2 linked regions of the Homo sapiens genome follow. The protein of the gene in region 2 interacts with the protein of the main gene of each other region in a biochemical or structural test. Each region holds a gene or a part of one and is shown on either strand. Other genes may lie near its edges.

Evidence for each region. The genes of interacting proteins can lie anywhere in the genome.
Region 1: the proteins of FASN (region 2) and SNX8 form a complex in vitro, tested with the Homo sapiens proteins (one study listed by BioGRID).

Annotation. Positions count from the first base shown.
Region 1 is NC_000007.14:2,304,442-2,311,465, reverse strand, and holds part of SNX8 (sorting nexin-8), read left to right. Parts: intron 1-1,392; exon of another isoform or gene 1,393-1,413; intron 1,414-1,509; exon of another isoform or gene 1,510-1,609; coding exon of another isoform or gene 1,610-1,661; intron 1,662-7,024. UniProt on the Homo sapiens protein: May be involved in several stages of intracellular trafficking. May play a role in intracellular protein transport from early endosomes to the trans-Golgi network.
Region 2 is NC_000017.11:82,081,233-82,088,256, reverse strand, and holds part of FASN (fatty acid synthase), read left to right. Parts: coding exon 1-141; intron 142-222; coding exon 223-303; intron 304-395; coding exon 396-572; intron 573-752; coding exon 753-932; intron 933-1,003; coding exon 1,004-1,207; intron 1,208-1,698; coding exon 1,699-2,003; intron 2,004-2,385; coding exon 2,386-2,775; intron 2,776-2,854; coding exon 2,855-3,019; intron 3,020-3,100; coding exon 3,101-3,222; intron 3,223-3,303; coding exon 3,304-3,458; intron 3,459-3,540; coding exon 3,541-3,744; intron 3,745-3,872; coding exon 3,873-4,023; intron 4,024-4,103; coding exon 4,104-4,282; intron 4,283-4,365; coding exon 4,366-4,485; intron 4,486-4,617; coding exon 4,618-4,740; intron 4,741-4,831; coding exon 4,832-5,055; intron 5,056-5,141; coding exon 5,142-5,343; intron 5,344-5,578; coding exon 5,579-5,730; intron 5,731-5,842; coding exon 5,843-5,934; intron 5,935-6,096; coding exon 6,097-6,248; intron 6,249-6,413; and 3 more. UniProt on the Homo sapiens protein: Fatty acid synthetase is a multifunctional enzyme that catalyzes the de novo biosynthesis of long-chain saturated fatty acids starting from acetyl-CoA and malonyl-CoA in the presence of NADPH.

The DNA.
Region 1 (7,024 bases), on a different chromosome or scaffold from region 2:
GGATCGCCCGAGCCCAGGCGCTAGAGACCAGCCTGGACAACGTAGCGAAATCCTGTCTCAAATTTTTAAAAAAGAAAACAAAAACAAAAACAGCAAAGAAAAAAGTTAAGTCTCTGAATATTGTCCGGAGACTATGTGTGTGACTTACACGTTCACTAAGGTTGGTTTGAAGGAGTGGTTGTGCCTTACGGGTATACAGTGAATTTCCTCTTCTCTAGAGTTTTGGCCACACAGCCAGAGCCCACTGGTGGTATTCATGTGGGAACTGTGAAATCTCCTGCATCTTCGGTGTTGCCAGAAAAAAATGTGCTTGTTGTACTTTTCCACATTAAGAGTCTCATTCTATTTGAATTCTTTGAAGCTTAAGCTGTGAATGCTCTCTAGGGCAACCCTCTTTATAAAAACTTAATTTTCAGTTATGCCATACATGGACAAATGTATTTTCTTTAAAAAAGAATAGAACATTGTAGATTAAGTGAAAGTCCCATCCTAATTGCCATCATCTCCTGTCTGTACCTGAGAGGTGACCATTGTTCTCAGTTTGGGATGGACCGTTTTAGTTCTGTTTTCACATTTTATTCATATATGTACTCAGGAAACATATACTTCCTTATATAAGTGTGCTCATGTTTCCCTAGCGTAGTATATTCTCTAGCTTTCTTTTGTTCCTTTTATTTTTATTTATTTATTTTTTTGAGACGTAGTTTCACTCTTTTGCCCAGGCTGGAGTGCAGTGGTGCGATCTTGGCTCACTGCAAGCTCCACCTCCTGGGTTGACGCCATTCTTCTTTCTGCCTCAGCCTCCTGAGTAGCTGGGACTACAGGTGCCTGCCACCACACCTGACTAATTTTTTGTATTTTTAGTAGAGATGGCATTTCACCGTGTTAGCCAGGTTGGTCTTGATCTCCTGACCTCATGATCTGCCTGCCTCGGCCTACCAAAGTGCTGAGATTACAGGGGTGAACCACTGCGCCCAGCCACGCCTGGCCAATTTTTAAAATTTTTTGTAGAGACAGTCTGGCTGTGTTGCCCAGGCTGGTGTGGAACTCCTGGCCTCAAGCAATCCTCCCACCCGGGCCTCCCAAAGTGCTGGGATTTCAGGCATGAGGCACCGAGCCTGGCTGGATTTTATATTGAAACTATTCCTGTCAAAATATCTGATTGACCGGAACATTCTGTCCTCTGACTATGCAGGATAAGGGTTTTTTTCAGGGCCTGTTCTTAGGTCATGAAGCTCAATGATTGTGACATCCAGCGAGAACGGCAGTGAGTGTGGTAAGTGTGCTTGGTCGTCCAGCCTGATTTCTCGGGATCGATTAATACATGGATAGAAATATGTACAGATGACCACGGCGTATCCTGGCTCTGCCGTATACAGTCCTGCGGCCCTACATTGACTCTTTAGAACGAGGGTGAGTCACGCTTCACTTGCGGCTCATCCCATGGCATTCCATACATTCCATTCGGTTCGGAAGCTCCGTGCTGTTTGTCCGCGTTGACCTGGCGATGACTCCTTGAGTGTCATTGAGGCAGGTCCAGGGCCTTTGCTGACCCTCGGGGCTCCTTCACCCCTGCCCCGAGCCTTCCCCTCTTGCCTGGGCGACTTCCATGCACCCTGGGCTCCCATCAACCCTTACCTGCAGCTGCTCGCTCATGTCAGGTCTGTTCTCTGTGTGAATACGTTGGTCAGAATTCATTGCGCTGTCACTTAAAGTTTATACTTTTTTTTTTTTGAGATGGAGTCTCGCTCTTGTTGTCCAGGCTGGAGTGCGATGGCGCGATCTCGGCTCACCGCAACCTCCTCCTCCCGGGTTCAAGCAATTCTCTTGCCTCAGCCTCCTGAGTAGCTGGGATTACAGGCATGCGTCACCACACCTGGCTAATTTTGTATTTTCAGTAGAGACGGGGTTTCTCCATGTTGGTCAGGCTGGTCTCGAACTCCCAACCTCAGGTGATCTGCCCACCTTGGCCTCCCAAAGCACTGGGATTACAGGCGTGAGCCACCGCGCCCGGCTGGTTCTGGTGATTCTTGTGCCTCAGCCTCCCCAGTAGCTGGGATTACAGGCGTGTGCCACCACACCTGGCTAATTTTTGTATTTTTAGTAGAGACGAAGTTTCGCCATGTTGGCCAGGAAGGATGATCTCAAACTCCTGACCTCATGTGATCCACTTGCTTTGGCCTCCCAAAGTGCTGGGATTACAGGGGTGATCCACCCCACTGGGCCTATTTATACATTTTGAGCAGGGTGTGGTGGCTCACACCTGTAATCCTAACACTTTGGGAGGTTAAGGCAGGAGGATCACTTCAGGCCAGGAGTTTGAGGCCAGCCTGGGCAATAGAGTGAGACCCCATCCCTATTTAAAAAAAAGATTTGTGTCTGGGCCTGGTGGTTCACGCCTGTAATCCCAGCACTTTGGGAGGCCGAGGTGGGCGGATCACCTGAGGTCAGGAATTCAAGACCAGCCTGGCCAACATGGTGAAACCCCGTCTGTACAAAAATCCAATAATTAGCTGGGCATAATGGCGAGTGCCTGTAATCCCAGCTACTCGGGAGGCTGAGGTGGGAGAATTGCGTTAACCTGGGAGGCAGAGGTTGTAGAGGTTGTAGTGAGCCGAGATGGTGCCGCGCTGCAGCCTGGTTGACAGAACAAGACTCCAGCTCAAAAAAAAAAAAAAAAAAAAATTTGTTCATTTTATGGTGATTAAATTATGCCCCACAGTATTGTTTGCATTAGGGACAAAACCTTCTGCCCCATTTCGCTCCCTTCCATGACCCTTTTTTTTTTTTTTTTTTTTTTGAGACAGAGTCTCACTCTGTTGCCCAGGCTGGAGTGCAGTGGTGCCATCTAGCCTCACTGCAACCTCCATCTCCTAGGTTCAAGTGACTCCTGCCTCAGTCTCCCCCGTAGTTGGGATTACAGGCGTGTGCCACCATGCCCAGCTAATTTTTGTATTTTTAGTAGAGTCGGGGTTTTACCATGTTGACCAGGCTGGTCTCGAACTCCTGACTTCAGGTGATCCGCCCGCTGCAGCCTCCCAAAGTGCTGGGATTACAGGTGTGAGCCACCGTGACTGGCCATGACACATATTTTGGTAGTAAACTCCTGATGAGCAAACTTATTTTTATTTTTTTTACAAGTTTATTTTGTTTATATAGTTTTGTTACTTTTTTCTTTTTTTAATTCTGGCTCTCTCCAGAAAACAGAAACCTATTTTTCTTTAACCACAGTATCTAGAATACTATCTGCTATGTAGCAGAGTCTCAAATATTTGAATAGAATTACATTTTTATAAATTTTTGTATTATATTTCTTATGTGATAAGACTTGACAACACTGCAAATATGTTTTGTTACTGGTCTTTAAACTTGCTCATCCTCTCTCTCTCTCTGTCTCTCTCTCACACACACACACACGCACACATACACAATTTGCAAGGTAAAACGTGTCAATTTGAAGAAAGAGGAACTAACTGAATCACTGTTATGTAGAACAGATTTTGCCAGAATTTGTGGTTAGCAAGAAAGTGATGTGTTCCGGGTAGGGGAATTCTGTTTTGGTATTATTTTGTCTTTCCTGAGAAAAGCATCACAAAAAGAGATGTTTGCCCATCCTGTTTGCTGGGGTAGTGGGAAGAGACCGGGGGTGATGGTGGTGCTGGCTGGACGTGGGTGGTTTCACAGGACCTGCTGTGTCTGAGAGGAGCCATGCGGTGATTAGAAGCTTGGAGGCTGCAGGTAGGAGGCACAGAGCCCGAGAGTGCATGGAGAGCCTGGCTGTCGGTCTCCAGCATTGTCACTGTCACCTTTTTTTTTTTTTTTTTTTTTTTTGGAGACAAAGTTTTTGCTCTTGTTGCCCAGGCTGGAGTGCAATGGTGCGATCTCGGCACACTGCACCCTCCGCCTCCCGGGTTCAAGCGAGTCTTCTGCCTCAGCCTCCCGAGTAGCTGGGATTACACGTGTCCACCACCGCACCTGGCTAATTTTTGTATTTTTAGTAGAGATGGGGTTTCACCATGTTGGCCAGGCTGGTCTCGAACTTGGAACCTCAGTGATCCCCCCGCCTTGGCTTCCCAAAGTGCTGGGATTACAGGCGTGAGCCACTGCACCTGGTCCATTGTCATCCTCTGAGAAACTGGAGCGCGGCCACGCTCTGCATATTTCTACTATAGAATCACCAAAAAAAAAAAAATCACATAACCAGACTTAAAGGGCAGAAGTGCTTTGTGAGAAGTGTTTTTGGGAAAATATTGGCATTAAAATATCAGGTAGGGTCCCTTTTGGGAGGACTGAGGAGGGGTGTGTGTTCAGCTCCGGGAGGATCTGGTCTGCCCTTCCTGCTGTTTTCTGTTGACTGGGTGGGAGGAGGCACTTTGCTGTTTCTGTTGTGTGTAGCAGGGGTTTAATGGGGGTCTTTTTAGCTCCCTATAAGCATTTTGAAGTTTGTGTGTTATGGAAATCTGAAGTGAAATTACACAAAGTTTGATTAACCCCAGGAAGTACTGTAGGGGCCGGAGAAACTCAGGTTAGGTAATATCTTTCAAGAAGCCCAGTTACGTTATTTTCCAGGAATCTTCCAAAACCTGATTTGTGCGGGTGTCCACCAGGAGCCTGATGAGTGAGTTGTCATCAGACCCAGTAATGCGCTGTTGTTGTGTGAATTGGTGCTTTCAGAAAATTTTGTTATACAAGTGATACAACCACAATCGCAAAAATTTCATAGACAAATCACCTGTAGTTCCACCCCTTTTAACAGCCGTTGCATTTTAATATATTTCCTTTTTTCCTGTGCATTGCTTTGTATGTAGTTATCATCATAGTGAATATGCGTCTTTATAGTTAGTTCCTTTCACTTGACATTTTTCTACACTGCTAGTTTTCGTAATTTTCTACCTAGTGTCTGTATAATAGTGCATTAAGGAATATAAAGTTGTGCTTCGAAAGTGCTAATATGATAAAATTTCAGTTAAAAAAAATTTCAGTTAGAGATATTCTTGCCACATGTTTTCCAGAAAATGATTTGTTAAATGGAATCCATATTAAAATTTGTCCCGGAGGCTGGGCACGGTGGCTCACGCCTGTAATCCCAGCACTTTGGGAGGCTGAGGTGGCTGGATTACAGCCTGGCCAACATGGTGAAACCCCGTCTCTACTAAAAAAAAATACAAAAATTAGCCAGGCTTGGTGGCATGCGCCTGTAATCCCAGCTACTCGGGAGCCTGAGGAAGGAGAATTGCTCGAGGTTGCAGTGAGCTGAGATCGCGCCACTGCACTCCAGCCTGGGCGACAGAACAAGACTGTCTCAAAAACAAAAAACAAACAAAAAAATGACTTGTCCCGGGTTGGGCACAGTGGCTCATGCCTGTAATCCCAATGCTTTGGGAGACCCTACAGAGCCTGATAAGGGATAAGACTGAATGAAAATCGAGGAAGATGCCGTACCAATTAGGCTGGTAGTTCCCTCTGGCGGGAAGAAGGCACCCAGATCTGTCAGGGATGCAACCAGAAGGAGCGTTTCCAGGGTGCCGCTGTCTTTATTTTTTATTTTGTAGAGACAGGGACTCACTACGTTGCTGAGGCTGTTCTTGAACTCCTGGGCTCAAGCAGTTCTCCTGCTTCGGCCTCCCAAAGTGCTGGGATTACTGGTGTGAGCCACCGTGCCTAGTCTGGCTGTCTTTAATTCTTGGCCTGGATGGTGGTTACACGTGTTTGGTAAATAATTTTGTTCGAGTGTTCATAGAAGTTTTATAGTCCTTTCTGTGCATGTGTAAAGTATTTAATAATACAAAATAATACAATACAGGCCGGGCATGGTGGCTCACGCCTGTAATCCCAGCACTTAGGGAGGCCGAGGCAGGCGGATCACCTGAGGTCAGGAGTTCGAGACCAGCATGACCAACATGGTGAAACCTCCTCTCTAATAAAAGTATAAACATTAGCCAGGTGTGGTGGCGGGTGCCTGTAATCCCAGCTACTTGGGAGGCTGAGACAGGAGAATCACTTGAACCCAGGAGGCAGAGGTTGCAGTGAGCTGAGATTGCACCACTGCACTCAAGCCTGGGCAACAGAGCAAGACTTTATCTCAAAAACAAACAAACAAACAAAAATACAAAATGTTGGGGGAAAACCTGAGGTTCCTAAGATAATTTTGTAGGACTATCTGGACTGACTGCCTTGGTATTCATGCCCCAAGTCCCGTTGGATTTACCCAGAGGGAGGTGCCTTTAGGGTGAAATCCGTTTTCTTGCCTCAGTGTCTGCTCCTAACAGAGGGCACTGCGGTTGATCAGCAGAAGAGCTCCCCTGCCTCCAGCTGTTTCTGAGGCCTGAGTGCTGCTGGCTCAGCCCGGTGCTCTGTTGAGTCCAGCTGTTTCGGTGACCCACCGGCAGCACAGCAGGAAGGAGCACCCAGACCCTCCGGCGTCTGCAGGAACAGCAAGGCTTGTCTGGGAACCTCACTCTCAGCCAAAAGCCAAAAGCAGCTCTCTGGCCAAAGCTGTCAAGGAGAGTCAGATGATATTCATTACTGGGCACAGTTCATTATCTTCAGGACCGAAATTTCACCTCCCAGCTCCTGAGAAATTCCAGTCCAGGCTGGGGGTGGACCTGTCTTTCAAGAACCGGCCACTTAGTGCCCGTGTTTTGCACCAAAAGGAGATTTGAAATTGCATTTTCAGCTCTTCAGAGTCTGGGGAGTGTCTCTGTGTGTGCAGTTTCTTATCTCAGGACGGCATGTGCACGGTTAGCCTTCCTTCCTTGGCTAGATAGGAAAGGAGGGACACTCCTGGAAGCTTCTGCGAAGTTTAAAGTGACCCTGTGTTATGTGCAAATGGGCGTGCTTCCCTCCAAGGTGGGCTACTCAGTGAGGGGACCGTATTCCCATCTGCCCCTGTCCTTGGGGAGATGGAATTTTTTTTTTTTTTGAGATGGAGTCTCGCTCTGTCGCCCAGGCTGGAGTACAGTGGGGCAATCTCCGCTCGCTGCAAGCTCCGCCTCCCGGGTTCACGCCATTCTCCTGCCTCAGC
Region 2 (7,024 bases):
GTCGCGTCCTCTTCCCCGCCACTGGCTACCTGAGCATAGTGTGGAAGACGCTGGCCCGCGCCCTGGGCCTGGGCGTCGAGCAGCTGCCTGTGGTGTTTGAGGATGTGGTGCTGCACCAGGCCACCATCCTGCCCAAGACTGGTGAGGGGTACCCCAGGACCAAGGCGGGGGTAGCTGGGGGGCGGGTGCTGCCCTCTGATCTCCAACTCTCCCGCTCTGCAGGGACAGTGTCCCTGGAGGTACGGCTCCTGGAGGCCTCCCGTGCCTTCGAGGTGTCAGAGAACGGCAACCTGGTAGTGAGTGGTAAGCAGGGCCGGTGGCACGGGAGCTGCGGAGGCTGTGCCCGCTGGCCATGCCGCCCGTCCTCAGGCCCTTCCGCACCTCCCTTTCCACAGGGAAGGTGTACCAGTGGGATGACCCTGACCCCAGGCTCTTCGACCACCCGGAAAGCCCCACCCCCAACCCCACGGAGCCCCTCTTCCTGGCCCAGGCTGAAGTTTACAAGGAGCTGCGTCTGCGTGGCTACGACTACGGCCCTCATTTCCAGGGCATCCTGGAGGCCAGCCTGGAAGGTGGGTACTGACTACACTGCTGCCCAAGCCACCGGGGAGGGCGGTCGTCATTGTGGGGACCACAGAGGGCACCCACAGCTAGGCATGCAGCTTGGGAGGGAGCAGAGGGGCCCGGTGGGCTCTGGGAGGTGGCCCCAGGGACCTGGGAGTTCCACAGCACCAACCAGGCCCTGTGTGCAGGTGACTCGGGGAGGCTGCTGTGGAAGGATAACTGGGTGAGCTTCATGGACACCATGCTGCAGATGTCCATCCTGGGCTCGGCCAAGCACGGCCTGTACCTGCCCACCCGTGTCACCGCCATCCACATCGACCCTGCCACCCACAGGCAGAAGCTGTACACACTGCAGGACAAGGCCCAAGGTAGCCCCGCCCCAGCCCCAGCCCAGTGCCCCCACCCAAGTATGCCGCACTCACCCAGCCTGTCCCCACAGTGGCTGACGTGGTGGTGAGCAGGTGGCTGAGGGTCACAGTGGCCGGAGGCGTCCACATCTCCGGGCTCCACACTGAGTCGGCCCCGCGGCGGCAGCAGGAGCAGCAGGTGCCCATCCTGGAGAAGTTTTGCTTCACTCCCCACACGGAGGAGGGGTGCCTGTCTGAGCGCGCTGCCCTGCAGGAGGAGCTGCAACTGTGCAAGGGTGAGGTCCCAGCCCTGCTGGCTTCGGACACCTCTGGCGATGAGGAGCGATCGCCTCCCCTCACGTTGACCCCAGACTTGCTTCTCCACGGGGCCCCCTTTGGGGTCAGCAACCCTAGCCCAACCCTCCGGCCGGAGCTCACGATGGCGGCCTCCCTCCCTCCCCCAGCCCCCAGCCTTCCTCGTCCCTGGTCACTGTTCCTCAGTCTTGAAAGGGTACTTGGGGGCAAAGATGACAGATTCAGCCTAAGGTCACACCTTGGCTAGGCACAGAGTAGCCCCTGCAGCTGAATGCGGCCCCTCACTGCGTCCACAGTGGGCAGGAGTCAGCCTCCCAGTGGTGGGCAGCCCCTTCCTCAACCCTCAGCTATTTCTCATCCTGTGGGCAGAGCGGGGTGGTGGCCCCAGAAGGACAGAGTGGGTCTGAGAGCCCATGCCAGGCAGATGCCCTGGGGCTTTGGGAACACCAGGCCTGCCTCCCTCCCTCCCCAGGGCTGGTGCAGGCACTGCAGACCAAGGTGACCCAGCAGGGGCTGAAGATGGTGGTGCCCGGACTGGATGGGGCCCAGATCCCCCGGGACCCCTCACAGCAGGAACTGCCCCGGCTGTTGTCGGCTGCCTGCAGGCTTCAGCTCAACGGGAACCTGCAGCTGGAGCTGGCGCAGGTGCTGGCCCAGGAGAGGCCCAAGCTGCCAGAGGACCCTCTGCTCAGCGGCCTCCTGGACTCCCCGGCACTCAAGGCCTGCCTGGACACTGCCGTGGAGAACATGCCCAGCCTGAAGATGAAGGTGGTGGAGGTGGGTGCCTCCTGGGCAGCCAGGCCTCTGCCCCGGACATGGTAGGACCCACCCTGACATCAGTTGCAGGAGACAGCACAGACACGGGGCGGGCCCTGGGCGGTGGGTGGGGCCGGCCAGTTCCCTGTGTGGTTCTGTGCACGTGTCCTGTGCGGTCCACACAGCCACCGTGGAGGGTCCGCCCGTGGGCTCCAAGAGGTGCAGCCTAGGCAGGACCCCAGGGACAAGACCAGTGGCATCCATGCGTGCCCATGGCTGGCACCGTCATCAGGTTGACGGGGAAGCCTTTCTGCCAGACTGAGGCCTCATGGACATTTTGCCCAGCCCCAGGTCAGGGGCACCTGCCTGGTGTGGGGCTGATTCCAGAATTCACCCCCTACAGGTGCTGGCTGGCCACGGTCACCTGTATTCCCGCATCCCAGGCCTGCTCAGCCCCCATCCCCTGCTGCAGCTGAGCTACACGGCCACCGACCGCCACCCCCAGGCCCTGGAGGCTGCCCAGGCCGAGCTGCAGCAGCACGACGTTGCCCAGGGCCAGTGGGATCCCGCAGACCCTGCCCCCAGCGCCCTGGGCAGCGCCGACCTCCTGGTGTGCAACTGTGCTGTGGCTGCCCTCGGGGACCCGGCCTCAGCTCTCAGCAACATGGTGGCTGCCCTGAGAGAAGGGGGCTTTCTGCTCCTGCACACACTGCTCCGGGGGCACCCCCTCGGGGACATCGTGGCCTTCCTCACCTCCACTGAGCCGCAGTATGGCCAGGGCATCCTGAGCCAGGTGCGGCCGCCGGGCAGGGGGACAGGGTGGGGGCCGGGTGAGGGCCAGGCGGGCAGGGTGCTGACCACCGCCCCCACAGGACGCGTGGGAGAGCCTCTTCTCCAGGGTGTCGCTGCGCCTGGTGGGCCTGAAGAAGTCCTTCTACGGCTCCACGCTCTTCCTGTGCCGCCGGCCCACCCCGCAGGACAGCCCCATCTTCCTGCCGGTGGACGATACCAGCTTCCGCTGGGTGGAGTCTCTGAAGGTCAGGCCCTGCCCCACCTCCAGGCCCCACCCCACCTCCCAACTTGCCGAGTGTGGCCTGACCCTCCCCGACCCGCTGTAGGGCATCCTGGCTGACGAAGACTCTTCCCGGCCTGTGTGGCTGAAGGCCATCAACTGTGCCACCTCGGGCGTGGTGGGCTTGGTGAACTGTCTCCGCCGAGAGCCCGGCGGGAACCGCCTCCGGTAGGAGCACGGCCCCTCACCACTTCCCCTTCCCCACCAGCCTCCCCATCCCCAGCCTGAGCTCCCCGCCTCTGCCCCCAGGTGTGTGCTGCTCTCCAACCTCAGCAGCACCTCCCACGTCCCGGAGGTGGACCCGGGCTCCGCAGAACTGCAGAAGGTGTTGCAGGGAGACCTGGTGATGAACGTCTACCGCGACGGGGCCTGGGGGGCTTTCCGCCACTTCCTGCTGGAGGAGGGTGAGCCCCCGACACTGCCCTGCCCCTCCCGGGAGACTGCACCCGAAGGCCCCGCAGCAGCCCCACCTCCCTGTTTCCCTAGACAAGCCTGAGGAGCCGACGGCACATGCCTTTGTGAGCACCCTCACCCGGGGGGACCTGTCCTCCATCCGCTGGGTCTGCTCCTCGCTGCGCCATGCCCAGCCCACCTGCCCTGGCGCCCAGCTCTGCACGGTCTACTACGCCTCCCTCAACTTCCGCGACATCATGCTGGCCACTGGCAAGCTGTCCCCTGATGCCATCCCAGGTATGGGTGGCATGGGGCCGTGGGAGTGGACTGGGCCGGGGAGCAGAGACCCCAGCAGCTAGGACCTGCCTGGGAGCCCCTCGGGAGGGAAGGGCAGGCGGTGAGGGGCTCAGTGCCGTCTCCCCCAGGGAAGTGGACCTCCCAGGACAGCCTGCTAGGTATGGAGTTCTCGGGCCGAGACGCCAGCGGCAAGCGTGTGATGGGACTGGTGCCTGCCAAGGGCCTGGCCACCTCTGTCCTGCTGTCACCGGACTTCCTCTGGGATGTGCCTTCCAACTGGTGAGTGTGTCGAGGGTGTGAGCCTGGGCCCCACGTGGATGGCGGCCAGGCCTGTGCTGACCCACCTGCTGCATCCCCAGGACGCTGGAGGAGGCGGCCTCGGTGCCTGTCGTCTACAGCACGGCCTACTACGCGCTGGTGGTGCGTGGGCGGGTGCGCCCCGGGGAGACGCTGCTCATCCACTCGGGCTCGGGCGGCGTGGGCCAGGCCGCCATCGCCATCGCCCTCAGTCTGGGCTGCCGCGTCTTCACCACCGTGGGTAAGGCCCCGCCCCCGGTGCCTCCCGCTGCCCTCCTGGCCCCGCCGCCCTGGCTCACCAGCCGCGCTTCCTCTCTTCACCAGGGTCGGCTGAGAAGCGGGCGTACCTCCAGGCCAGGTTCCCCCAGCTCGACAGCACCAGCTTCGCCAACTCCCGGGACACATCCTTCGAGCAGCATGTGCTGTGGCACACGGGCGGGAAGGGTGAGTGGCCCCCACAGCCCCCACCTGCCTCCTGCCTAGCCTCCGGCCCAGGGAGAAGCAGGGTCTGGCCCTCTGGACTGTGGTGGCTGGGCTTGCAGTGGGTGTGATTGTCTGGCCCCTCTGGCCCCCTAGGCGTTGACCTGGTCTTGAACTCCTTGGCGGAAGAGAAGCTGCAGGCCAGCGTGAGGTGCTTGGCTACGCACGGTCGCTTCCTGGAAATTGGCAAATTCGACCTTTCTCAGAACCACCCGCTCGGTGAGGCCGGCAGCGCCTGGGCGGGGGTGGGCATGGATGGGTGTGGGTGGACCTGTGGAAGGCCCTGGGTGAGCACGGCCCCTGCCCGCAGGCATGGCTATCTTCCTGAAGAACGTGACATTCCACGGGGTCCTACTGGATGCGTTCTTCAACGAGAGCAGTGCTGACTGGCGGGAGGTGTGGGCGCTTGTGCAGGCCGGCATCCGGGATGGGGTGGTACGGCCCCTCAAGTGCACGGTGTTCCATGGGGCCCAGGTGGAGGACGCCTTCCGCTACATGGCCCAAGGGAAGCACATTGGCAAAGTCGTCGTGCAGGTGAGGGGAGGAGTCCCGGCGCCTCGGGCACCCCAGGCTCTGGTCCCCAGGCAGTGCCTGAGCCGGTGGGTGCTGCTTGGACGCAGGTGCTTGCGGAGGAGCCGGAGGCAGTGCTGAAGGGGGCCAAACCCAAGCTGATGTCGGCCATCTCCAAGACCTTCTGCCCGGCCCACAAGAGCTACATCATCGCTGGTGGTCTGGGTGGCTTCGGCCTGGAGTTGGCGCAGTGGCTGATACAGCGTGGGGTGCAGAAGCTCGTGTTGACTTCTCGCTCCGGGATCCGGACAGGTGAGTCGGCAGGGGTGCTTGTGGACCAGCCTGGGCCAGGCACAGCCCCGGGCCCCTGAGCCCTTCTCTGCAGCCCACCATTGTGGGCTGTCACGGTGCCTGGGGTCTGTCCCCCTCCATCTTGTGGGGGGCTTGCTGGATGGGGCTCTGCGGCTGCTCCCCACTTCCCCAGCCCGGCGTGTAGGGAAGAGACCGTACCCTGGCCCAGTCCAGCCCACAGTCCTGTGTCCCGCAGGCTACCAGGCCAAGCAGGTCCGCCGGTGGAGGCGCCAGGGCGTACAGGTGCAGGTGTCCACCAGCAACATCAGCTCACTGGAGGGGGCCCGGGGCCTCATTGCCGAGGCGGCGCAGCTTGGGCCCGTGGGCGGCGTCTTCAACCTGGCCGTGGTGAGGGAAGGCCCCAAATGGGGCCCTCAAAAGCCCCAAGACCAAGGGGGGGACCCTGGGTGGACGGGTGAGGCCCTGGAGCTGCAGGGAGTGCTGAGGATGCCTCCCCCAGGTCTTGAGAGATGGCTTGCTGGAGAACCAGACCCCAGAGTTCTTCCAGGACGTCTGCAAGCCCAAGTACAGCGGCACCCTGAACCTGGACAGGTGGGTACCGCACAGCCCTGCTCCCGCCTCTGCCGGGCTCTGGGCTCAGGGCCGTGGGAGCCAAGGTGGTTTGTTGACAGCCCTCTCTGGCGTTTCCTGGGGATGGGACGTTGGGGGCTCCTGGGGATGCTGGCCAATGGGGAGTGACACGCGTGCCCACAGGGTGACCCGAGAGGCGTGCCCTGAGCTGGACTACTTTGTGGTCTTCTCCTCTGTGAGCTGCGGGCGTGGCAATGCGGGACAGAGCAACTACGGCTTTGCCAATTCCGCCATGGAGCGTATCTGTGAGAAACGCCGGCACGAAGGCCTCCCAGGTGGGCCCCACCCTCTCCCCTCGACCCTGCCCACCCTGCCCTCTCCCAGTGGCCACTCCCCACCCCCACCTTCTCCCCGCAGCCCTGCCCACCCCACCCTCTCCCAGTGGCCACTCCCCACCCCGACCTCCCCGCAGCTCTGCCCACCTGCCCCCTCCCCCACAGGCCTGGCCGTGCAGTGGGGCGCCATCGGCGACGTGGGCATTTTGGTGGAGACGATGAGCACCAACGACACGATCGTCAGTGGCACGCTGCCCCAGCGCATGGCGTCCTGCCTGGAGGTGCTGGACCTCTTCCTGAACCAGCCCCACATGGTCCTGAGCAGCTTTGTGCTGGCTGAGAAGGCTGCGGCCTATAGGGACAGGGACAGCCAGCGGGACCTGGTGGAGGCCGTGGCACACATCCTGGGTGAGCACTCCCAGTAGGAGCCGCGCCAGGTGTTTCCCCTGCTGGCATCAGGGTCTTGGGACATAGCAGTCGTGCCCCTGTGCGCCTCAGTTTCCCCATCTGCAGAGCCAGGGTGCGGGCGCAGGTGTCACTGTGGTGGTGGTGCTTTGGGAGATGCACAGCCCACGCACCCCTGGGTGTCAGCCCTGCCGCATACAGGCCGTCCCCATGCCCCCTCTGGAGTTGCCGACCCGGCGCATCCCTTCCAGGCATCCGCGACTTGGCTGCTGTCAACCTGGACAGCTCACTGGCGGACCTGGGCCTGGACTCGCTCATGAGCGTGGAGGTGCGCCAGACGCTGGAGCGTGAGCTCAACCTGGTGCTGTCCG